Linked DNA regions of Homo sapiens. The protein of the gene in region 1 interacts with the protein of each later gene in a biochemical or structural test. Each region holds a gene or a part of one and is shown in the gene's direction. Other genes may lie near its edges. The genes, in order: CUL5, UBE2L3, DCUN1D4, RBX1, RHOU, DEPTOR and ASB9.

Region 1 (3,500 bases):
GACTACAGCCGTGTACCACCATGCCTGGCTAATTTTTGTATTTTTTGTAGAGGCAGAGCCCCACCTTGTTGCCCAGGCTGATCTCCACTGCTTCTGGCCAAATGACTGACCTTTTAAAGAAAGGAGTTGGGTTTTGCAGTATTTGATCACTTTTTTTATTTTTATTTTTTGAGACCGTCTTGCCCTGTCACCCAGGCTGAGTGCAATGGTGCAATCACGGCTCACTGCAGCCTCAGCCTCCTGGGCTTAGGCATTCCTCACACTTCAGCCTCCCAAGTATCTGGGACCAAAGACATGCACCACCACACCCAGCTAATTTTGTTTGTTTGTTTTTGTGTAACGATGGGTTTTGCCATGTTGCCCTGACTGGTCTTTTTAACTCCTGGGCTCAAATGATCCTCCCACCTTGGCCTCCCAAAGTGCTGGAGTTACAAGCGTGAACCACCACACCCAGCCTGATCACTTTTAATTCGATTTTTTTTTAAACATAATTTTTAGACTAAGTACAGTGGCTCATACCTATGATCCCAGCACTTTGAGAGACCAAGGCGAGAGGATTGTGTGAGCCCCGAAGTTTGAGACCAGCTTGGGCAACATTGGGAGACCCTGTCTCTACAAAATTACAAAAAACATTAGCCAGGCATGGTGACATGTGCCTGTGGTCCCAGCTACTCAGGAGGCTGAGATGGGAGGATTGCTTGCGCCCAAGAGGTCAAGGCTGCAGTGAGCCGTGATCGAGCCACTGTACTCCAGCTTGGGTGACAGACTGGGACCCTGTCTCAAAAACAAAAAAACAACAACAAAAAAACGAACAACTACTCCTAATGGCATTGTATCCACAGAATACTATTAACATTACAAACTTAACTAATGTTTCTCTAAACTCTTACTCTAGTAAATGAAATGATTACATGAATGTGTTCTCTCCTTCCAGAATTACATTTAATGTTTTCATTGATGGACAAAGTTCCTAATGGTATAGAGCCAATGTTGAAAGACTTGGAGGAACATATCATTAGTGCTGGCCTGGCAGATATGGTAGCAGCTGCTGAAACTATTACTACTGTAAGTTTTTTTTCAATGGCAATGATAGATATATATCAAGGCTATTTTTTAAATGTAGGATTATTGAAAATAGTGAGCGGTTACCAGAGGCTGGGGGTTGGGGGAGCAGAAGAGGTTGGTTAGTGGGGTATAAAGTTATAGTTCAATAGGAAGAATAAGTTTTGGTGTTCTATTACCCATTAGGGCGGATATAGCAAGTAACAATGTAGTGTATATTTCAAGATAGAAGAGATTTTTTATGTTGTTACCACAAAGAAATTATAAATGTTTGAAGTGATGGATATAGTAGTTACCCCAATTTGATCATTATAGTATATACATGCATTGAAATATAACATTGTACCCCATAATATGTACCATTATGTGTTGATTACAAATAAAAACATTAAATTTTTAAAAATACAGAATTGAAAATTGAAAATAGTAATTGAAATTACTATTTTCTCTGTAAAACAGGGAGCTGGGCAAGGTGGCTCACGCCTGTAATCCCAGCACTTTGGGAGGCCGAGGTGGGCAGATCACAAGGTCAGGAGATCGAGACTATCCTGGCTAACATGGTGAAACCCCTCTCTACTAAAAATACAAAAAAAATAGCCAGGCGGGGTGGCGGGCGCCTATAGTCCCAGCTACTTGGGAGGGTGAGGCAGGAGAATGGCGTGAACCCAGGAAGTGGAGCTTGCAGTGAGCCGAGAAGGTGCCACTGCACTCCAGCCTGGGCGACAGATCGAGACTCCGTCTCAAAAAAAAAAAAAGGAAGAAAGAAAAAAGAAGTGGCAAAACAGTAATATTGGAACACCTTTTAGTTTTATTTTTAAGAAAAAATATCCCCAGTTTTAAATGAGTTTTATTAAAATTATGTTTATTTTCTCATTTTTTTGTGTTATTCTTTTTCTTTTAAAAACTTAATGTAAAACCTTTTGTTTCTAGGACTCTGAGAAATACGTTGAGCAGTTACTTACACTATTTAATAGATTTAGTAAACTCGTCAAAGAAGCTTTTCAAGATGATCCACGATTTCTTACTGCAAGAGATAAGGTATATATTCCTATATATATAAAAAACACTTTTAAAAGTTTTATTCTCATAATTTACTTCTAATAATCAATTTGCATTATTTTTCTATTAATTATAAACTTAAAAACCTAGCAACTGTTATTTTTCATCAGTGGAGAACAACTATATTCGTTTTGTCTTGGCTGTAAGCATTTGTTAAACATTAGATAGCCTTGTGAATTAGAATTTAGTTAGAAAGTTGCTTTTTTCTCATTTTTCCAAGAATGTTTTTCTGTTTTTGAATATTACTGATCTATTGAATTCCTATTCATCCTTCCATTAAGACCCAGCTCAAAGAATACTTCCCCTGGAGCTTCCTTGATGTCCTGCCTCCCTCCACAGCTCATCACCAGCAGAGTTGATTCCTCCATCCTCCGTCCTTTCATGGGACTCCTTCGGGAGTTATGTTATACTTATCCTTGTTTCCCAGGGAAGCATTTGTATTGCATACCATCTTTTTCCATCCTCACTAGTATAGGATAATGATAATAAAACACCATACTGTCCTTAGCATTGTATCTTTTTTAGTGTAATAAACCTATAACAAGAAATTGCTGTTAGTTTTTTCTCTTCTTTGACTACCTTTCGTTACTTCCCAAGTTTGAATGATTCTAAAAAGACAACTTTCTCCATTCTCCAGTAGGATTTTTTTCTCACTCTTTTTGTCTATTTTAATTTTTTTTTTTTTTTTTTTTTGAGACTGAGTTTCGCTCTTGTTGCCCAGGCTTGAGTGCAATGGCATGATCTTGGCTCACTGCAACTTCTGCCTCCCAGGTTCAAGCGATTCTCCTGCCTCAGCCTCTCGAGTAGCTGGGATTACAGGGACCAACCACCATGCCCGGCTAATTTTTGTATTTTTACTACAGACGGGGTTTCACTGTGTTGGCCAGGCTGGTCTCGAACTCCTGACCTCAGGTGATGGGCCCGCCTCGGCCTCCCAAAGTGCTGGGATTACAGGCCTGAGCTACTGTGCCCAGACTCTTTTTGTCTATTTTAAAACAAGTAAATAGGCCAGGTGCAGTGGCTCACGCCTGTAACCAGCACTTTGGGAGGCCAGGGCGGGTGGATCACCTGAGGTCGGGAGTTCGAGATCAGCCTGATCAACATGGAGAAACCCCATCTCTACTAAAAATACGAAAAATTAGCTGGACGTGGTGGTACATGCGTGTAATTCCAGCTACTTAGGAGACTGAGGCAGGAGAATTGCTTGAACCCAGGAGGTGGAGGTTGTGGTGAGCTGAGATCGTGCCATTGCACTCCAGCCTGGGCAACAAGAGCGAAACTCTGTCTCAAAAAATAAATAAATAAAAATAAAACAAATAAGTAGGTAAAGTAGGAAAGGAGTTAAGGGAGTATAGACATGGTGGGCGTGGTGTGAAGTC
Region 2 (3,500 bases), on another chromosome or scaffold:
TGTATACCACTTCTTCTCGGTCCTCTCCCTTGCTTTCTTCCAGGGCCCCTGGGTTTGTATGAGGAATGTTTCAATGAAGTCTTCTTCCTTCTCCAGAGCAGTTAAGGCATTGTTGACATCTGACATCCCCAGGGTCCACACTTGTACCCCAACCTGGGCTTTAGGTCTTCCTGCATTGGACGGGCTGGGCCAGCATGGGAATCTACTATACAAACTCACCTGAGGTCTGCCCAGTTGGGGTAAAAGTAGAGCCAGGCCGATGAAGGCATGGCAGCCCAGCCCTGGTCCTTAGTGGAGAGTGGTGCTGTCCTTGGGTAGCCACCTAGCGATTGCCCTGGTCGTAGTGCACAGAGGAGGGCAGGTGGGAGGGAAGGCTGGGGAGGTACTTCCTAGAGACTTCATTGTTGCCAACGCAACTCTGGTCTATTCCCTTTAAACATTTGTTTTTCTGTAATTTTTTTTCATCTAAGATGCTAAGGTAACGTCTAAGGAAGAAAATATTACCCATAATCACATCATCAAGAAATTCAGTTACATTTTGTGTACTGCCCTTTAGGAACTAGAGGTGTGGTAGTCACCCTTCTTGAAGCTTCTAGCCCAGTGAATGTGTTTACTCTTAACCTTCAGCATACTTCCTCTCAGCCTTTTTTCATGCAGTTTCTTTTTTTTCTTTTTAATTGAGTTGGAGTCTCGCTCTGTCGCTATGCAGTGGCACGATCTCGGCTCACTGCAACCTCCGCCTCCCGGGTTCAAGCGATTCTCCTGCCTCAGCCTCCCAAGTAGCTGGGACTACAGGTGCGCACCACCACACCCCGCTAATTTTTGTATTTTTAGTAAAGACGGGGTTTCACCATGTTGGCCAGGATGGTCTCAGTCTCTTGACCTTGTGATCCACCCTCCTCAGTCTCCCAAAGTGCTGGGATTACAAGCGTGAGCCACCACGCTGGCCTTCATGCAGTTTTTAATAAACCATTTCATAACTTCATAATAATGTTTTGGTTTTTTGAGGCAGGGTTTTGTGCTGTCACCCAGGCTAGGGTGCAGTGGTGTGATCATGGCCCATTGCAGCCTTGAATTTCTGGGCTCAAGCAATCCTCCTGAGTAGCCAGGACTACAGGTGTGTGCCACCACACCCAGCCAATTTCTTTTTATTTTATTCCATTTTATTTTATTTTTTGAGACAGTCTTACTCTGTCACCCAGGCTGGAGTGCAATGGTGTGATTTTGGTTCACTGCAACCTCAGCCTCCTGGGTTCAAGTGATGCTTATACATCAGCCTCCCGAGTAGCTGGGATTGCAGGTGTGCACCACCATGCCCAGCTAATTTTTGTTCTTGTTTTTGAGACAGAGCCTTGCTCTGTTGCCCAGGCTGGGGAGTGCAGTTATGCGATCTCGGCTCTCTGCAACCTCCATCTCCCGGGTTCAAGCAATTTTGGCTAATTTTTGTACTTTTAGTAGAGACTGGGTTTCTCCATGTTGGTCAGGCTGGTCTCGAACTCCCGACCTCAGGTGATCCACCCATCTCAGCCTCTCAAAGTGCTGGGATTATAGGCATAAGCCATTGCGCCCATCCTGTAACGTCTTAAATTTCCACTACAAAGGTTCCAGTTCATCCACATCCTTGCTAACATTTGTTATTTTACTTTTTTTTTGTTTTTACGTTACAGCCATTCTAGTTGGTATGTAGTGCTGTCTCATTGTGGTTTTGATTTCTGTTTTCTTCATACTAAGGATGTAGAACATGTTTTTGCATGGTGTGTTTTTTGTTTTTTTGTTTCTTTTTGAGACAGGGTCTCACTCTGTTGCCCAGGCCAGAATGCAGAAGCACAGTCTCGTCTCACTGCAACCTCTGCCTCCCGGGTTCAAGTGATTCTCCCACCTCAGCCTCCCGAGTAGCTGGGACTATAGGCGTGCACCACCACACCTGGCTAATTTTTGTATTTTTTGGTAGAGACAGGGTTTTACCATGTTGGCCAGGCTGGTCTCGAACTCCTGACCTCAAGTGATCTGTCCGCCTCAGCCTACCAAAGTGCTGGGATTACAGGCTTGAGCCACCGTGCCTGGCCTGATGCACTAAAGTTTTAAATTTTTTAATTTAATTTTTATTTTTAGAGAAGGGGTCTTGCTCTGTCATCCAGGCTGGAGTGCAGTGGCTCAATAATGGCTCTCTGCAGCCCCAGACTCCTGGGCTCAAGCAGTCTTCCCAAGTAGCTGGCACTATAGGCACATGCTGCAACCCCCAGCTAATTTTAATTATTTTTTCTGTAGAGATGGAGTCTTGCTGTGTTGCCCAGGCTAGTCTTGAACTCCCAGGCTCAAGTGGTCCTCCTGGCTTAGCCTCTGAAAGCTCTGGGATTTACAGATGTGAGCCATCACACCTGGCCTTAAATTTTTAATAAAGAAGTCCAATTTATCTATTTTTAATTTTGTTGCCTATACTTTGGTTTGATTTTTAAGACACTGTTGCCAAATCCAAGGTCATGCAAATTTTCCTGAGTTTTCTTCTAAGAGTTTTATAGTTTTAGCTCTTAAATTTGGATCTTTGATCCATTTATATGTAGATTTTTTTTTTTTTTTTTTTTTTTTTTTTTTTTGAGACAGGCTCTCGTTCTGTTGCCCAGGCTGGAGTACAGTGGCATGATCATGGCTCACCACAGCCTCAACCTCCCAGGCTCAAGCGATCCTCCCACCTCAGCCTCCAGAGTAGCTGGTACTGAAGGCATGAGCCACCACGCCCAGCTAATTTTTGTATTTTTTTTTTTTTTTTTGTAGAGATGGGGTTTTGCCATATTGCACAGGCTGGTCTTGAACTCCTAGACTCAAGTGATCCGCCTGCCTTAGCCTCCCAAAGTGCTGGGATTACACCACTATGCCCTGCCTCATTTCTTATTTTAATAATATGAGTCTTTTCTCTTTTTCCTTTTATCAGTCTAGCTAAAGTTTTTTCAATTTTGTTGATCTCTTCAAGGAAGGTTTCATTAATGTGTGTGTGTGTGTTTTTCATTTATCTCCTCTGTGCTTACTATTTACTTCTTTCTTGTGTTATTACTTTCTTTGTTCCTTAAAATATCCAGTTAGATTATTGATTTCAGACTTGCTTTTTCAATGTAGGTATTTAAAGCTGTAGATTCCCTTTGAGCACTACTTTTGCTGCATAACTTAAGTTTTGGTATGTCATTTTTTTTTCTGAGGATATTTTCTAATTTCCCTTGTGATTTCTTCTTTGACCCATTGCTTGTTAGAGAGTACGTTTAATTTCCCCATAATTGTGAGTTTTCTAGTTCTGTTATTGATTTCTAGTTCCCTTTCCTTCTCCCTTTCCCTTTCCTTTTTTTTTTTTTTTTTTAAATAAATAGAGATGGGGGCTGGGTGCAGTGGCTCACACCTATATTCCCAGCATGTTGGGAGGCTGGGGTGGAAGGATCGATTGAGCCTAGGAGTTCAAAACCAGCTTGGGCAATATAGCAGGACCCCGTCTCTATTTTATTAAAATAATAATA
Region 3 (3,500 bases), on another chromosome or scaffold:
CTTAGTGTATGTCCATTGTGACGGGGACATAGGTATTGATGATGGTGGAAGAAGGCACAATATATATCACAGCAAGACTAGAGATTTGGGGTTTAGTGAATGATTACAAACTCTGCAAAGGGAAAACTCTTCCAGAGCGCCAGTGTTGTCAGCCCAGTGCTGCATAAGCTGTTGTTCAACAAATGGACTTTGGCCGAGTCCTGTGGTGCCGCGTGTGTTTCTCAACAGTTTACTCGTTTATCTTGTGGATTGCTTCATAGTATGGTGTGCTGTTGCCGTCTGCCACACCTGTGTTACAGGGTAAGAGGAAGTTTTCCATTTGCTTGCACAGTGTCATCACAGAAGTGTAAGCCCTTGAAACACAACAAACCAATGCAGTTTGTCTGGCAAAAGGCAGGCAGTCTCTAGATCACCTCTTCTCCTGTCCTCTTCTCCATTGGGAGTGCGTACTGCAGCCCTGAGCAGGACAATACATATGGCCAAGGGACAGGCAGAGAACCCTGTGGAAAGGAGGTCCCACCTGTTTGCATAGAACTGTGGAACTGGGATACACCTGCCCTCATCAGACTTAAGTTATGTGACCTCTGAAAGAAGGGTGATGTGGAGCCATCTGACCTGGTCTATTCATGGACAGTCGTTACACTTCACAACTGAGACCAAAAGGCCAGATCTATTGCACATCTTCCTTAGGCAACAAGTTTCCTTGTCTTCATCTACCTTGATTGTTGTTGTTAAGTGAGGCCCTTACATTTGCTGTATTAAGTCCCAATTCAGGGTCATGGCTAGAAATGGTTTGTATACTAAAGAGTACCTCACTGTTAAGCGTCCTTGCAGTGATGATTTATTTTATCAGGAGGTATATATGGCTGCATATGTGGCTTAGGGTGGTGGTCACAGCATCATCCCTTAATTTGAACATTTAGATTCCACTGCACTGGGCTAGCCAGGCACTTTCTCCCTTTGTAAAAAACTACTTTTACAAATTTCCACTGTAGTTAAGATAACACATGGAGGCTAGCTTTGGATATGTAAGGTATGCTTATGGTCCCAGGCCCTCTATTCCTTTCCATGGAAACTGACCGCTTGTAGTTCTGGAATGGAAGCATATAAGAAAGACGGAAATGAGAAATTAGGATCCTTAATTGCAAATGTAAGTGGAATGAGCTTACCCTGCCCTTATTTAGGTTTATGTTCTTATCTTTTTTTCTGGTGTCCTTATGAAATGTTGTCTTTCACTTGGTTACTAGTTAGGAGTATTTTACTAGGAAATTTACGTCTAAGAAATCTATCTATCTATCTGTCTATTGAAGGACTGTATTGATAGACTTCCTGCCTTCCACCAGAGTGGGTAGATGAATCTATCCTCTGATTTAGAGAGACACTTCAGAGCCCCAGCATTTGGTATGAGCTGAAGTCAATTCCAGCATGTTTAGGTTCAAGAAAAATATTTATCAATGAAATCAAATTGATTTCGTTTTTATTAAGGAAACCTGATTCCTAATCATAGGCATCAAAACCTTTAAGCTCCGTTGAGTTATAGGCTTTATGGTCAACAATTAGGATTTTGATAATTATCATAAATATCAAACAAGCAAGTGATTGAGTTACAAGTTTTTATTAATCCCATGAAAAGCCTGTAGAAACTGCTACGACATAACTAATTGATTTTGCATTAGGGTGATCATTCAGTTGACATAAATCTTTCTCACAGTAAATTTATATAATATCGTAATGCCCAAGCCTTCCATTGTGTTTGACTACCTCCCCTCCCTAACCTTAGTCTGGATGCAGGGTCTTTAAGGTGTATGATAAATGAGCTGTTTACTAATTTCCTGTTGAAGTGAATACACATTTGCAATTATTGGAATTTATTATTTGGGGGCATCTGGCTCATCCTTGTTTTTGTTTGTTAAACAGGAAAAGGACCAGCGCAGCCTAGACATAAACACTGCCAAGTGCATGTTGGGACTGTTATTAGGAAAAATCTGGCCCCTTTTTCCAGTTTTTCACCAATTCTTAGAGGTACCAAATTGTTGTTTTATGAAATGTATGTTTGCTTGCTTGGAACTACCAAATAACTTTATTCACCCGTTGTATGTAATTTTTTGTTTGTTGTACTTTTCTGCCTATGTAGGAATTACGGTGACATAATTGCTGTCAGTCAGCAGCTACCTATCTTCTTGGAGTGCATCTGTGTATGCGTTTAATGTTGTGTTGCTTCATTCCACATTAAAAATGCATCCGAAACAGCCACAGCTCTGTCCTTTTCTCTCTTTTCTCATCCCCATTTTAAAGCTTCACTTTTGTTTAGATTTTCTGTTCTTTGTAACAATAGAAAAAGAAGATTTACTTTCTTTTGACTTTAGATGAACTTCCACTTTTATTAAGCAGAGGTTTAAAAGACAGTCATCTGCCTTCTTACCAAAATTAGTTTGTAGTATGTTCTTATCTACTCTTGTCACCAAGTAACTTGAGGACCTTAGATCAATCTAAGTATTAGGCAGACTGACAATATCTCCTTCAGTTTAAATTGTCTTCAGATCAGTATCAGAACAATCCAGCACTTTATTCCATCATTGTTTGTGTGCTTTTAAGTATTGATGATCAGAAATTCTGAGCTACTGGTTTTGTTGAAGTGTCATTCTGTGGGACCTGGAAGTATATGGGATACAAGTTTGAGTTACTTGGGTTGTCATATATGGCATCCTCCTTTCCCTCCTGCCCCAAGCCCTTCTAAAAAGTGTCCTTTGCTTGCAAGGATGAGGGTGTTGGGTCTTTGAGAAAATGCTGGGCCGTAAGATGACTCTGGCTTCACTCTTGAATAATCTTTCTCACAACTTACTTTATGTAATGGTCCAGAATATTTTTAATATCTGATAGGATTCTTTGAGAACTGTTATTAAAAATTTCTTTTAACATTACTAAGTGGGACTCCTCAAAAATTTAAAAACTAGTTTTACGTAAGTATCTGTTTACCCAAAATAGTCCATGTTGACATATGGTCTGTTCTAATTTCTCTGACAATCCCTTGAGATGAGTTAGCATTATTTGGAAAAATAAATAGAAATAGTTCCCTGTTCTCAGAGAGTTTAGCTGGATTTACACCTGTGTGTAAAGAGTCTTAAGCTGGAAGACCTGGCCTGGAGGAAATCTGACTTTGTGTAATTCCAGGTGCATCATCAACTGTTTCAGGACTGGTTTTTGCTTTTACCTGCTTAGAAAGTTAAACTTGTAGTCTGTGCTTTGTTCTCTCTCTTACATTAGTTTGCATTTTTCTTTAAAAAAGACAGTATTCCTCTCATTTCAGCTTTTCTTGTGTTTGCATCCTCAAAACCATTGACTCAACTCTCTTTGCTTTTTATGTACTTGTATTGTTTTACTATGTTTCTGATTTTAGTGGGGAAGATTTAAAAATCATTGGTTCTGGATTTTATTTATGAATCTTCATACAGGGATACTGTATTTTTAAATAGACACATGGCAAATTTCTCGTCTAAGAG
Region 4 (3,500 bases), on another chromosome or scaffold:
CTCCAATCCTGGGTTCCCTCATAAAATGGGGCTGATAGTGGACCACATAAAATTGTAATCCGGATTAGATGATTTATGTTAAAATGTGATTAAACAACTCCCGGCACATAGTAAGCACAAGTGCTTGTTAAAAAAAATCTAAATAGGCCGGACGCGGTGGCTCACGCCTGTAATCCCAGCACTCTGGGAGGCCGAGGCGGGTGCATCATGAGGTCAGCAGATGGAGACATCCTGGCTAACACAGTGAAACCCCGTCTCTACTAAAAATACAAAAAATTAGCCGGGTGTGGTGGCAGGCGCCTGTAGTCCCAGCTACTCGGGAGGCTGAGGCAGGAGAATGGCGTGAACCTGGGAGGTGGAGCTTGTAGTGAGCCGAGACCACACCACTGCACTCCAGCCTGGGTGACAAAGTGAGACTCTGTCTCAAAAAAAAAAAAATCTAAATAAATACAAATTTGAGGTAGAGGTGTTACTGTGTAGATGGTGTTCTCAGTAGTTTTTCCTGTTGGGTTGCAACTCTTTTTCCTACCTACACTGGTTTTTTGTTTTTTTTTTTGTTTTTTGTTTTTTGTTTTTTTTTTGAGACGGAGTCTCACTATGTGGCCCAGGCTGGAGCGCAGTGACGCAGTCCCGGCTTACTGCAACCTTTATCTCCTGGGTTCAAGTGATTGTCCTGCTTCAGCCTTCCGAGTAGCTGGGATTACAGGTGTGTACCACCACACCCAGCTAATTTTTGTATTTTTAGTAGAGATGGGGTTTCGCCATGTTGGCCAGGCTGGTCTTAAACTCCTGACCTTGGGGCGATCTGCCAGCCTCGGCCTCCCAAAGTGCTGGGATTACAGGCGTGAGCCACCGTGCCCAGCCCCTACCCGCACTTTCGGGTACACCTTCTTCCATCTTTGTTGGGACCCTTTGGCCAGGCTCACAATAGACCATGTTGGCCATGGGGGAGCTTTAATCGTTCATGGGGATAAAGGAAGTATATTGGGCTCTTTGCCCTTTCTGGCATACAGACATATACTAAGAACCATGTTCCTTTATGTGGAAAGAAAAGAGAGTGAACATCCCCTTAAATTTGGCTAAGGAGAGATTCTCTGAGAGAGCCTGCCGTAGAAGAGAGCCAGCATGGTGTGGCAGAAGGCTCTGGATTAGTCCTGGGTTCTAGTTCTGGGTCTTCTACAAACCAGCTCCATGAATTAGGCAAGTCACTTGTCTGGGTTTCAGTTTCCTGTCTGTAAAATGAAGATAAAAATATCTGTCATGCTTGCCTGCCAGGGTTGATGTGAGGCCTCAAATGAGGTAATACATGTCAACATCTTCTGTAAACTGTCAAGTACTATAAATTTATCTTCTGTAAATTGTACTTTGACCGCTAAATATATCCATTAATACATCTTAGTAAATGTTCAGGGGTGCTGTCACCTCCCTGACACCTCCTTTACAGCCCCCTTTTCCCCAGCGCGTGGTATGCTCTGACTTAGTTGGGCTCTACCAGGACACCGTACTGCTGCAAAGTGCTCAGTGGGTGAGGTGGGAGAGGGAGAAGCTGTCGAATACCCTTCGGTGAGCCCGACCCCAACACCTGATGGTTAAGAAAAATGTCTCTGCTTTCTGCCTTTTGGAAATTTTGCTCTTTCTCTTTTTCACAGTGAGTTATACAAGAGTCAGCTGAAAAGGGATCTTCCAAAAGGCTGTCACTCTAAGAGAATATTTGTCCTCTTGGGTATCCCTAGTGTACTAGCTGTGGATTCCACTCTTAGTTACTGAATTATATTTTTGTCTTTGTCAAAAAACATTTCACAAGATAATAATCCATATTATATAATCCCTTAAGTTCCATACATACTTTGGGAGACGTACCGACCAGATTTCAGTTGTTATTAAATGAAGCTTGTAAAGCTTTTGTTGTTTTGTTAGGGTGAGTAATTTCTGCCCGTGCCCCACCACAGTGCACCAATCACAGACGAAATGAAGGAAGCACTTGCTGCGTCTGTCCTAATACGCACATGAGCAGGGGGAGAAGTGCTCATTGCAGAAGCATTGTGATTAGCATCTGCATGTCATGAGCCCACGCCAAAAAACTGCATGCAGATTGTCCTTTTCCCAAATCTAAGCAGACTTCTAGCTCCCTGTCAGTTACCAGTGTTCTTGATACTCTTGTCTTTTTACTTCTTGTCTTGATTATGAAATAAGCCTTTTGATGCTCTTTAGGCTGCTTGTGTGCCGTTTGTCCCTCATAAGAATACTTCCTTTTACCCCAATTTTCTTTTATCTCATTCCCTAAGACAAAGTCCCTCACCCATTAAAGGCACGTGAAGTACTGAGCTCTTGTAATATCAATATGTCTGTGAATAAATCTAGAAATAAAGTTTCTTTGACCAGAGCTGAGCTGGGTGTGGGGAGGTTGGGGAAGTGCCCGTCTCAGTTCTGGGTGGGCGGCAGTGACCATGCACTTCTCTACCAAGGGCTGGGGAGAAGGCTCTGCTCCTACAGGTCGCATTCTCCAGGGGCAGGAGGGTGGGAGGGAAGCTAGAGACCCAGAATGGGGATATTTGAAATCTGCATTGATGAGGGGCCTCCTTTCCCAAAGAAAGTGGAAGTATCCCCTTACAGGCTGAATGGGACCAAGGAGCCACATTCCACGTTCTCTTAAATAGAAGAGAGCTCAGTGCTGGCACATACTCCTGTGCTTCCTGAATGATTTCCTTTAGTAGTAATGACATTTCTAACAAATGCTTTGTTGGAAATACCCTTGCATCTAACCAAGATATAATCAGTTGTTGAACTTTTGCCTCTCGTTGTCTTCTTTTCTTTTCTTGCCCACTATATGTCACCCATGCCACTACCCTGTGGGACCTGTTGTCGCTCGATGGCTGAGCCTGCATAGAGTTATTTTTAATAAAATATATGTTTTCTTTCAGCATGCTTTTCACTTCCACTGCATCTCTCGCTGGCTCAAAACACGACAGGTGTGTCCATTGGACAACAGAGAGTGGGAATTCCAAAAGTAGGTATCTTTGGTTGTTTTGACGGGGCTTTTTGACTTGCCTCAGGCTGAAAGGAGCGTGGTCTTGGGGGATGGAGACATGATACATGCCTTGTTTTTTTTAAAACTAGTTTTTGGTTACTTAAGCTAGGACTTATCTATATGGAAAATGCACAAAGGATTAGCCAACATTAGACATTTGCAGCCTAGGGTTTCCCAACCTTTTTTTTTTTTTTTTTTTTTTTGAGACGGAGTCTCGCTTTGTTGCCCAGGCTGGAGTGCAGTGGTGCTATCTTGGCTCACTGCAACGTCCACCTCCCAGATTCAAGCGATCCTCCCACCTCAGCCTAGCAAGTGGCTGGGATTACAAGTGTGTGCCACCATGCACAGCTAATTTTTGTATTTTTCGTAGAGATTGGGTTTCACCATGTTGGCCAGGCTGGTCTTGAACTCCTGATCTCAACTGATCTGCCTGCCTCGGTCTCCCAAAGTGCTGGGATTACAGGTGTGAGCC
Region 5 (3,500 bases), on another chromosome or scaffold:
TACAGGTTTCTTTTATACCAAGAGAAAAAAGCCACGGATGGAGTATAATGTGATGTAAATGGTACTTGGTAAATAATCGGAGTGTGTCAATTGAGTAATGAAAAACATGAATGGCGTTGAACTTTTTCTTGTCATTGGGAAATTATTTATACCTGAGGATGGTTGGCACCAACAGATATACATTTTACATAGGAAAGAGTAAATATTTTTCTACAAAAGAGTTGAGCAAAAGTTGTCAGTTAGCTGAATATGGTGCTACAGGGAACTATAGGATGTTTTCTGTAAAGAAATGGTAATTTGGAGAACAACATCTGTCTGTTCACAGCCAAATCCCCTCGCCTGCCACTGTGCCTTGAGTGTAGGTGATGTTCAGTGTGTCTGTTAAATGGATGACCACGGGAGAGCATTGGCAGCACAACCGTTGGTTTATTTGTAATCAACTCTAACTTATTCTATCCACTTCTCTATACTTTAAGGGTAGGGTGGGCGTGCCTATTCTCCAGTTCTTATCTGTCCAAAGCACTGTACATGGAGGCCATGGGTACTGGCAAGGATAAAGGAAGTAGGAGAAAATGAAGGAAGGAGGGAGGAAGAGAAGATACAGCCAGAATGAGGATGTATTAACTAGTGTCTGTAAGTGGCACTGAGCTGCAAAAGTTTTCTGAGTCACGATGACAATGGACTGACAAAGGTCCTCAACTCCATTTCTGGTCTGGCCTTGAGTCTGATTAGCATTACTCTGCGTTGCTGTGCATAGTGTGGGCAGAGCGTGTGCACAGTGCAGATGGGATGAAATTGGCATCACTCAGAGCTGTTGGGAAAGGCAGGGCTGGATTGATAAAGAGAGGAGCTGTGTTCGTAGACTGGGTTTGAGTGGGAGTCTTGAGGATCAATATGGGTGTGGTCTGAATTTTAGAAGAGTAGCTAAGTACCAAGAGTTGAGAGTAGGTTTGGGTTACACTCAGCTGAAGGCTTAAGTCCATTTTATTTCTAGAACCCACCTACTTTGAGCACTTTTTCTATGTTAAGCTGTAAGTAGGTCTTGAGTGTCGATGAACACGTTGAACATGTTTGGCAGTGTTCAGACCATAGCTGGCCCTGAAAGCAGATGGCTGCCACACCTTCGCTGGTGCACTGGCCCCGCTTGGGTAAACAGTAGGATCGTTTCAAGGATGCTGGCTCTTCCTTCTAGAACCAGCGGGTCTTCTATCACCTGCCAGACCCTTTCATGAAAAATGTGAAGGTGATCTTTTTACTGATGAGAATTCATGAAAACATAACTTTTGGGTACTTTGCTTGGTTGCAGGATGAATTTGACAAGCTGAGGCCTCTCTGCTACACCAACACAGACATCTTCCTGCTCTGCTTCAGTGTCGTGAGCCCCTCATCCTTCCAGAACGTCAGTGAGAAATGGGTGCCGGAGATTCGATGCCACTGTCCCAAAGCCCCCATCATCCTAGTTGGAACGCAGTCGGATCTCAGAGAAGATGTCAAAGTCCTCATTGAGTTGGACAAATGCAAAGAAAAGCCAGTGCCTGAAGAGGCGGCTAAGCTGTGCGCCGAGGAAATCAAAGCCGCCTCCTACATCGAGTGTTCAGCCTTGACTCAAAAAAACCTCAAAGAGGTCTTTGATGCAGCCATCGTCGCTGGCATTCAATACTCGGACACTCAGCAACAGCCAAAGAAGTCTAAAAGCAGGACTCCAGATAAAATGAAAAACCTCTCCAAGTCCTGGTGGAAGAAGTACTGCTGTTTCGTATGATGCTGGCAAGACACCCAGAAAGGCTATTTTCAGATGAAATCGATATTAGAAGCTATATTAGCTGAAACAACTCCTTTTACTGCGTAGAACCTATATCGAGAGTGTGTGTATATGTATTATAGGAGGAGCTCTCAATTTTATGTATTCTTTCTGCCTTTAATTTTCTTGTTTGTTTGAGCTTAGGGATGAGATACTTATGCAAGATATTTTTGAAGTAAATTAAACATTTTTCACATCTCTGGAAATTTAGAGTTCTAGACCTCTGGTTAATTTATATCTAATATGAAGAAGACACCTCTAATCTGGATGTTAAGAATGAAGTTCTGCTACATTATAATGTACAGAAGAGCAAAAGGGAGGAACACTATGGTTAACCCTCTCTTGATTAAGGGCTACTTAATGCACAGTGCATTATGTACACAGGTCAACCATGGTAACAATAGTTCTTAGCTTTGAAACTCCATGCAAACCATGCCTTTTTTTTAAGGAGCAAAAATCTGAGAAAAAAAGTGAGAGACCTCTGCCTACAAAACCTCAAACCAGTCACTTTTGTCAATTGCTAATACCCAGTTACTTATGATTTAAAAACAACCAACAGAAAACATCCCACTGACTGTATGGCACTCTGTAGTCAAAAAAGGAAACTTCCTTATTGGGACTTTTCTTTCTTAGTCCAGTTGTGTTGACACATATGAACACAGACAAAGTGCTATGCGGAGGAAAGCAAGTGTTGGTCAGTAGTTTCATGTTTTAGGGAGTGGTTCCTGTGGAGATCAGAAAGTGACATTTGCTTTCGGTACTGTAATACGTGCACCAAACTGCCTCAATCCTAGGTAACGAGGGCAACAGGGAGCACCTGTCTGGATTGTTTTTAAACCTCCATACTCAAGCTGTCTCTTCGGCAGGGAGGTGAATACTCTTGAAAGGCCAACAGCAAGTGTTTGTGGGACACAACACAGATAATTTTTTCTTAAGTCGGCCAAGATGTACTTCTCTGTGTGCACACCCATGCACACTCATGCACACAGATACATAGGTCTGTATGGCTGTATTTGCTGTTGATTCAGACTTTCACACCATTAATGGGGAAAAGCGTGGCCACAAAAACAGATGCTAGGAAGCTTGGCTTCCTCTTCTTGTTGACCCTTTTTTGAACCAACATCTTTTTTATTATATTCAGAGTATGTTTTTAAGTGTATCTTAATATATACATTTTTTAGGACATCTTAAATCTAAACAAAAAATAAAATGAACATCTCTTGAAACCTGTTAAAACAACCAGTTAAAGCCACAGATGGCTTTCAGGGCAGTAGCAGCAGAGGCCAGTGGACTCTGAGGACTCCTGAGGGGCGGGGCGTGTAGCCAGCCAGGTGCATGCCGGGACCATGGCCCCCATACTTGGCTGCTTCCTGTGACAGTGAAATACATCCTTCAAGGTGGCAGCTGTTAGGGCTGAATCTTCTGGAGAAAAAGGTGCCATCTCAGGAGAATAGCTTTTACTCTGGTAGGAATGCTTCCGAGACACCACAAGGCAGCCTGAACACTCAGTTGCAGGGTCGGGCTTGCGGTGGGTGACCCAGAGCCACCAAAGTCACATCCACAACTAATGAGGGAAATCTGTAAAGCCAGTTAGATAGAAGAATTTTATTTTTCTGTGGGTTTTGTGTTGTCTTTTTTATGTTAAAAAGAAATCCAGTTTGTGTTTTTCTATAGAAAAAGTAAAAGATCAGGTTATACT
Region 6 (3,500 bases), on another chromosome or scaffold:
GAGCCCAGGTTGTGTCACGTACTCCAGCCTGTGCAACAGGGCAAGACTCCATCTCAAAAAAAAAAAAAAAATATATATATATATATATATAATATAAAGTAAGTGGCAGAGCTGCAACTCAAGTTCTTGTTTTTCTGCCACTAAGACCAGTGTGCTTTCTCCTGGCCCCTCTGGACCTTGCAGTTGAAAGCCTATGTGCTCTAGTGAGCCGAGACCACCCCCTTGGTGACTGTGTGTGTTCTCTGGCCTACACAGTGAGCCCCAGCAAGGAGATCAAGATCGTGTCTGCAGTGAGGAGAAGCAGCATGAGCAGCTGTGGCAGCAGCGGCTACTTCAGCAGCAGCCCCACCCTCAGCAGCAGCCCCCCTGTGCTCTGCAACCCCAAGTCCGGTGAGTGCCCAAAAGGTGGCCCCGCTCCTAAGACTGTGGGGACTTGGGCAGGTCCCTGGGAAGCAGAATCTGAGATAGCGGGAGACTAGTGTGTGGGTTCTAATAAGTTAGAGCATGCTCTTGGGGTCCACACGTGTTGAATGGAAGGGAAGGAAGAATTGGGCTGAAGGAGAAATTGGGTTGTAGCCCAGTCTCAATGAAGGCTATCATTGACCCAGTAAGACCTCTGGAGCTGGGATGGCCCTTCCAAGTTGCCTGGAGTTGTGTTGAGGGGGCTGGGCCTTTAGATCCACATGTTGGCCACTTATTAGGTATTGGCTGCCCCTGGGAGGAGGGCATGACCTTGGGCAAAGCAGGTGTCTTCAGAGAGATGGTCTCCAAGACAGCTGAGGGCTGTCACCATTAGCACTCTCGGAGCTGGGAGAAGTCCCTGAGCCCTGAAGGGTGTTTTGGGCAGTATGTGACAGTGCTCACAGCAGGGGAAACAGCACTTCCCCAGAATGCAGCCGATGCATAAGATCTGTTGGGGCCCAACACCCTTAAGGAAGAAGCATGGATGTGTGCAAACCCAGCTATCCCTGGAATTGACCCTGGGTGTCTTGTGGTTTCAAAATCTGCTCATCAACCTCCATGGCCTTTATATTCCAGGAAAAAAATCTAGGCACAAAATTGTTGGTGAACATGTACTTAGAAACAATCCTTCCTCCACCCAATCAGTTCATCAACCACCCAGGAACTGGTAATCCATTGAAACTACCCTTTCTCACCATCCCTTACCCACCTAATGTCCTCACTTGCCAGGATGAGGATGTGTGGTCCATCACTACAGTAACCGCCAGAGAACACTCTCAAACCCATTTGTTTAAGGCACTGTCCACCCCCAGTTCAGTTTGTCACCTTCGAGGAAGAGGCTCTGTTCCTTTTGTTCATGTTGTTTCCTCATCATCAGATCTTGGGGATACAAAGATGACAGGTCATAACCCCCAACTCAATGAAAACACCACCTCTTTGGAGAAAAAAACAAAACATTTCATGTTAGTAAGAATAAGCACTAATTGATGCAGTTCAAAAGGCTTTGAGAGAAAACTCTGTCATCTAATGGTATTATCTAGGAAGGTGGCTCTTTTTCCTGATCTAACTTTTTTTCTTTTTTTGCTGCCTTCTGGAGTGTTAGCAGCAGGAATAAATGTAACCTGTAAGTGAATGAAGAAGCTTGCTTCCATACTGTCCTGGCTGAAGAGTCGTTGAGTACTGGGTTTTTCAATTACTGGAGCTTGCTGCTAAAGTAGAATGAAAAAGGAGAACTGAATTCTTAGAAATGGGATGTTTGAAGCCTTTGTAGAAATCTGACAGGCATCCTCAAAGTTAAAAGCAAAAGATCTCAGTTTCAATAAAAGGGTCAGTGGTGCCATAACCATTTTACAAGTTTTTGATTGCTTATGATGGAGTATGAAAAAAGTGTTAATTACTGAAATTAGCAACAAAATCCATGTTCCCTGAGGTAGGTTAGCATGTTTCCTCTTTCTCCTTGCCTCTGGGTCAAAGGGAAGAGTTTACTGTTATGCAGGCAGAAGAAAAAGGTCTCGTTTCCTTTCGTGGGTCCCCAAGGACAAGAGCTGTCAGGACTGAGTTGTGGTTTGTAAATTCCACTTCTTACCCATAGTTTGACAAGCTTCTCTCTCACTCTTAAGAGGATTCCCAAGACCCAGTGAGTTCATCTGTGATTTTTTTTTCTCAAGCAGATGATCAGGCCTTCACAGTGATGCATTTAAAAATTAATTATCTGAAATACACCAGGATATGTTTTTTTAGTACTGTATATAAATGCCCTAAGCCAGACACAAAAAACAGTACTAAAGATATTGATGTTATCAGTATCATTGTGATAAGCAAATAAGCTTCCAAGGATATGAAAAGAAAAAAGTTTTCCCTAGGCCTCAAAGTTTCTATATTTTTCAACATAATAAAGAGAAGTGCATTAAAATGAATGGTCAGCTCTGCTGCCAAATAGTACAGTGTGATTCATGTATCCAAATTCATAAGCCCCCTGAGGGTTTATGGGGAGTGGAGAGAGAGTTACCTGACAGGGAATAAAAAAGATCTCAGTCCTCAAATACTGACCACTTTTCTTACCTCCCATCCATCTGCTGAGAGATTCTGTTTCCATCTTGATATTTGACCTACTCCCTCTTGTTTGGCGAACATAAATTAATTTTTGCTTTTATGAGATTTCTGAAAGCAAAGGTGATAAGATCAGCAACCTGTCACCTCAACAAGAAGCACTGGATTGCCTTTCACTGAGAGGGTGCTTCTCAGGCCAGAAGGCCGTTCATGTAACCAGTGGGCGAGGTCCAGCTGCCTGGTAGATCATCACGCCTTGCCCCACGCTGCCTTTCCTTGTCTGCTGCACACTCTTTCCAGGACTGGTACCTGGCCTCTGACTGTCACTAGCAAAGGGGATCGGAGGATGCCACCTCACCAGGTTAGGCCCCTTGGCTGGGGCCTTTTCTGTTTCTCTGTGGCACTTCAAGTTCACAATGTCTGCAGAGCTGGATTAGAATGGTCTCTGTCCCCTGACCCCCTGGCTACTTGGGGAGGATACGACAGCCCCTCTCCAGTTCTTAGTGAGCACAGGATGGATGGGGGGGTTCATTATCGGTGGGTTTTAGGCAGCCGCAAGTCAGGAATTGGCTGCTGTCTGCCATCTTGGTGGGCAACAGCAGTGAGCTGATGTGAACGGGTGTCTCAGGAGGACAGCATGCCACTATCTTCCTGAGCTTCTAGACCCTTTCTTTTGCTTGCAGGACAGCATGGCCCAGAGTAAATGTGGCACAGTAGCTGAGAGTGTGGGTGCTGGTGTCTAATGCCTGAGTTTGATTCTACTTCTGCCACCCATTCGCTCTGGGACCTTGGACACAATCAATTTAACTTTTCTAAGGTTGTTTTTGCAGTTATAAAATGGGGATAACAATGATCCTAACTCATTCATTCTTGTGATGATTAAGTGAGTTAATATATTCACCTCACATGGTGCCTCTCTAGCATATGTTGAGTACTCAGAAAAGTTCACTAGCATTATTACTCATGGCAGAAAGCAGTGGGTACATGCA
Region 7 (3,500 bases), on another chromosome or scaffold:
GGTATAATTAAGACTCTCTGTTTAGTGTTAGGGCAGGATAATAATAGTAGCTAGTATGTGTTGAGCCATGGTAAGTACAGGTTGAGCATCCCGTCTCTGAAATCCTTGGGACCAGAAGTGTTTCCAGTTTTTTCAGATGTTGGAATATTTGCATATACATAATGACTTATCTTGTGGATGGTACTCAAGTCTAAACACGAAATGCATTTATGTTTTATATACACCTTACACACATAACCTGAGATAATTTTATATAATATTTTAAATAAGTTTGTGCATGAAACAACGTTTTGACTGCAACCCATCACATGTCAGATGTGGAATTTTCCACTTGTGGCATCATGTTAGCACTCAAGAAGCTTTGGATTTTGGAGCATTTTGGATTTGGGAGTTTTGGGTTAAGGATGCTCAACCTGTATGTTATATATTAGGGCTGCTCAACTTGTAACTTTACAGAGAAGGAAACTGCGGCACTGGGCCTTTCCCGGGACCCACAGGTCAGAAAAGGTGAAGCGGGTCTGAATTAAGAGCTTTCTTTAACCACCTTGGCATGCTGCCTTTGAGGGTAAATAATGTCCCTGTTTCAAGGTGAGACTGAACACTGATTTGTGCTTAATATTAGGACAGGAGATAATCTATAAATAGATATGGTTCTGTTTAGATTTGATTCCAAACCTAATGGTGTATGTAATTACATGATTACTACTATTAATACAGAACACTGTTTGGTGAGATGCCAAAGTCTGTATTTCATGCAGGAAACTAGACTGACAGCTACAGCTTAACACACTAATGTTGGTAATTAGTGAAGCTCTCGCTTAACTAAATGGGCCATTTGCCTTTGAAACCAGTGTGTAAATAGAAATAGAGTAATCTGTCATCCCAATCCACCTCTTTTGTCCTTAGTTTGAGGACTGGCTGTAGTTCTTTCCCAAGCTATCCAGACATTTCAAACAAACTGTGCACAAAAAATATTAATAAAGAAGAGAAATGCTGAATTCCTGATGGGAATTTTGGTTGAGTGAATCCAATGTCTCCCTCCATCCAGGGCCTGTTAGGCTCTTATTGATGGGCAAGGATAAGCCTCTGGGTCTAAGTGCATTAGCAGGATATAACCCATTCCCCTCTTTCCATACAGATGCTGTGTCTGATTGGTCTCCTATGCATGAAGCTGCAATCCACGGACATCAGCTGTCTCTGAGGAACCTCATCAGCCAGGTAGCTTTTTGAAAATACAATACAGAAGAAACCTATCAAAATATTAAAACAAATGTGTGACATAATAACATAGGGACTTTTAAATTAATTCATTAAATAGAAGACCTAGTGGTGATTCTAGTAACTACCATAACGTCTAAATAGGATGAGTATAGATTTTGAGATATTTTAGATGTCTACAGCAATTGTAATACAATAGAAAATATCTGTAATTTCTATTGGAGATAACCCTACATAATACTATTACTACTGTGGTTTGTTGTCTACATTCTGAACTGAAGGAAATGCTAAATTTCAGATAGAGCTGAGTGAGAATAAATGTGCTTTAAAAAATCCAATTTCATAGACCTATCTAGAGTAAGAAGTCCTCCTATAAGAAAATAATTTCTAAAGAAAAATTTCATACTATCCTAAGCCACTATCTTAAGCCATTTTTGGTAGCAGCAGTCTATTATAAATAGATTATAACACTAATTCTAGCTAAAAGAAGTTAGGCTACTTCTCAGATAAAATTAGAAATTTACCCTATTTTGATAGCATGAAAAATGATCACTGCAGCTTTTATATATCACTTCTTAAATTGGACAGATACTCATTTACATTCAGTATTTATGTGTTTATGAAACATCAGCCAGAACCATATCTCCAAGTTCTATCACATTATTTGTGTAAGATGTCTTTTTAGAGCCCCGGTTTCTGCTTTCATAAAATGAGTATTCTAATACCTACCTAGGTCAGTCCACCCCATAACTCAATAACAAACCATCCCAAAACTCAGTGACATGATACAGTAACCATTATTTCTTGCTGATGTGTGTTTGTGTCAGTTCATCTAGGCTGGGCTTGGCTGGGCTTGGCTCCCAGCTGTGGGTTGGGTGTAGCCCTGCTGCACATCTCTTTCATCCTGCTTGGACCACTGGCTACCTGAGGAATTATTTTTTCTTGGCAAAACGCTGGAGCACAGCAGGACAAGCCCCACCATGCAAGAATACTTCCAATCTGTTCATGTCACATCTGCTAACATCCCACTGGTCAAGTCACATGACCACATCCAAAGTCAAGGCTCAAGAGAAGTACATTTTGTCAACTAAGCGTAGTTGACGACTGAAAATAGATATATTAAAGTTAAGCCATTCAATCTTTTTTTAAAAACTAAGAACTGACTGTGGACTGAACACTGTGAAGTAATGGGTTAATTACCTTATGATTTTATATGACTCAGACTTGTTAATAATTTAGACAAATCACAGTTAATTTAAGGTAGAACTGTAGCTTGATGATGAACTACAAATGAGTTTCTAACTTTACAGAAGGAACCTCTCTGCAATGTGAATATGTGGTGAAAACTTTTTGTGTTACGAATAGCTGTGTTGTTGTATTTCATTTACGTGGATTTATGTATAAACACCTAAATGCTGGTTTTATTTTTATCATTATTATTATTATTATTATTATTTTTTTGAGATGGAGTTTCACTCTTGTTGCCATCTGGAGTGCAGTGGCGCGATCTCGGCTCACTGCAACCTCCGCCTCCTGGGTTGAAGCAATTCTGCCTCAGCCTCCCGAGTAGCTGGGACTACAGGCATGTGCCACCACGCCCCGCTAATTTTATATTTTTAGTAGAGACGAGGTTTCACCATGTTGGTCAGGCTGGTCTCAAACTGCTGACCTCAGATAATCCATCAGCCTTAGCCTCCCAAAGTGCTGGGATTATAGGCATGAGCCACCGTGCCTGGTCTAAATGCCGGTTTTACAATGGCAGTTGTGCCTGGAGGAGTATGCACATTTTCCTATTGGTTGTTTTTATGGTTGCCTTTTGCCCAAGTTCTGTACCTCGGCCTGCCTTCCCCCAACTTGTGTCTGATACACTTGCATGATTTTTGCTTCATGTGACAATCATACCCCTCTTGTGGCATTGACAAAGCTACTTTCTATAAGTGTGATGACTGTGAGAAAATAAGATATTTTCTCCTGCCAATTGGACATTTAAGTCTTAGGTATGAATAGTAAAGTAAGAAATGACATATTCTTTTCTTTGATCACGACAAAAGTTGGCACATTTTTTTCTTTCTTTTTTTTTTTTTTTTTTTGAGACGGAGTCTTGCTGTCGCCCAGGCTGGAGTGCAGTGGCGCCATCTCGGCTCACTGCAGGCTCCGCCCCCTGGGGTTCACGCCATTCTCCTGCCTCAGCCTCCCGAGTAGCTGGGACTACAGGTGTCCCCCACCTCGCCCGGCTAATTTTTTGTATTTTTAGTAGAGATGGGGTTTCACCGTGTTAGCCA

Evidence for each region.
Region 2: the proteins of CUL5 (region 1) and UBE2L3 form a complex in vitro, tested with the Homo sapiens proteins (one study listed by BioGRID).
Region 3: the proteins of CUL5 (region 1) and DCUN1D4 form a complex in vitro, tested with the Homo sapiens proteins (one study listed by BioGRID).
Region 4: the proteins of CUL5 (region 1) and RBX1 form a complex in vitro, tested with the Homo sapiens proteins (4 studies listed by BioGRID and IntAct, with this or other methods).
Region 5: the proteins of CUL5 (region 1) and RHOU form a complex in vitro, tested with the Homo sapiens proteins (one study listed by BioGRID).
Region 6: of the proteins of CUL5 (region 1) and DEPTOR, one has a biochemical effect on the other in vitro, tested with the Homo sapiens proteins (one study listed by BioGRID).
Region 7: the proteins of CUL5 (region 1) and ASB9 are reported together in a solved structure, tested with the Homo sapiens proteins (one study listed by BioGRID).

What each region holds. Positions count from the first base shown.
Region 1 is NC_000011.10:108,071,398-108,074,897, forward strand, and holds part of CUL5 (cullin-5), read left to right. Parts: intron 1-934; coding exon 935-1,065; intron 1,066-1,992; coding exon 1,993-2,100; intron 2,101-2,402; coding exon of another isoform or gene 2,403-2,480; exon of another isoform or gene 2,481-2,669; intron 2,670-3,500. UniProt on the Homo sapiens protein: Core component of multiple cullin-5-RING E3 ubiquitin-protein ligase complexes (ECS complexes, also named CRL5 complexes), which mediate the ubiquitination and subsequent proteasomal degradation of target proteins.
Region 2 is NC_000022.11:21,595,214-21,598,713, forward strand, and holds part of UBE2L3 (ubiquitin-conjugating enzyme E2 L3), read left to right. Parts: intron 1-3,500. UniProt on the Homo sapiens protein: Ubiquitin-conjugating enzyme E2 that specifically acts with HECT-type and RBR family E3 ubiquitin-protein ligases.
Region 3 is NC_000004.12:51,909,153-51,912,652, forward strand, and holds part of DCUN1D4 (DCN1-like protein 4), read left to right. Parts: intron 1-5; exon of another isoform or gene 6-300; intron 301-1,917; coding exon 1,918-2,022; intron 2,023-3,500. UniProt on the Homo sapiens protein: Contributes to the neddylation of all cullins by transferring NEDD8 from N-terminally acetylated NEDD8-conjugating E2s enzyme to different cullin C-terminal domain-RBX complexes which are necessary for the activation of cullin-RING E3 ubiquitin ligases (CRLs).
Region 4 is NC_000022.11:40,964,878-40,968,377, forward strand, and holds part of RBX1 (E3 ubiquitin-protein ligase RBX1), read left to right. Parts: intron 1-2,921; coding exon 2,922-3,007; intron 3,008-3,500. UniProt on the Homo sapiens protein: E3 ubiquitin ligase component of multiple cullin-RING-based E3 ubiquitin-protein ligase (CRLs) complexes which mediate the ubiquitination and subsequent proteasomal degradation of target proteins, including proteins involved in cell cycle progression, signal transduction, transcription and transcription-coupled nucleotide excision repair.
Region 5 is NC_000001.11:228,741,979-228,745,478, forward strand, and holds part of RHOU (rho-related GTP-binding protein RhoU), read left to right. Parts: intron 1-1,306; coding exon 1,307-1,762; 3' UTR 1,763-3,500. UniProt on the Homo sapiens protein: Binds to and activates protein kinase PAK1. Plays a role in the regulation of cell morphology, cytoskeletal organization and focal adhesion assembly during cell migration. Also stimulates quiescent cells to reenter the cell cycle.
Region 6 is NC_000008.11:120,002,722-120,006,221, forward strand, and holds part of DEPTOR (DEP domain-containing mTOR-interacting protein), read left to right. Parts: intron 1-255; coding exon 256-390; intron 391-3,500. UniProt on the Homo sapiens protein: Negative regulator of the mTORC1 and mTORC2 complexes: inhibits the protein kinase activity of MTOR, thereby inactivating both complexes. DEPTOR inhibits mTORC1 and mTORC2 to induce autophagy.
Region 7 is NC_000023.11:15,256,584-15,260,083, reverse strand, and holds part of ASB9 (ankyrin repeat and SOCS box protein 9), read left to right. Parts: intron 1-1,138; coding exon 1,139-1,218; intron 1,219-3,500. UniProt on the Homo sapiens protein: Substrate-recognition component of a cullin-5-RING E3 ubiquitin-protein ligase complex (ECS complex, also named CRL5 complex), which mediates the ubiquitination and subsequent proteasomal degradation of target proteins.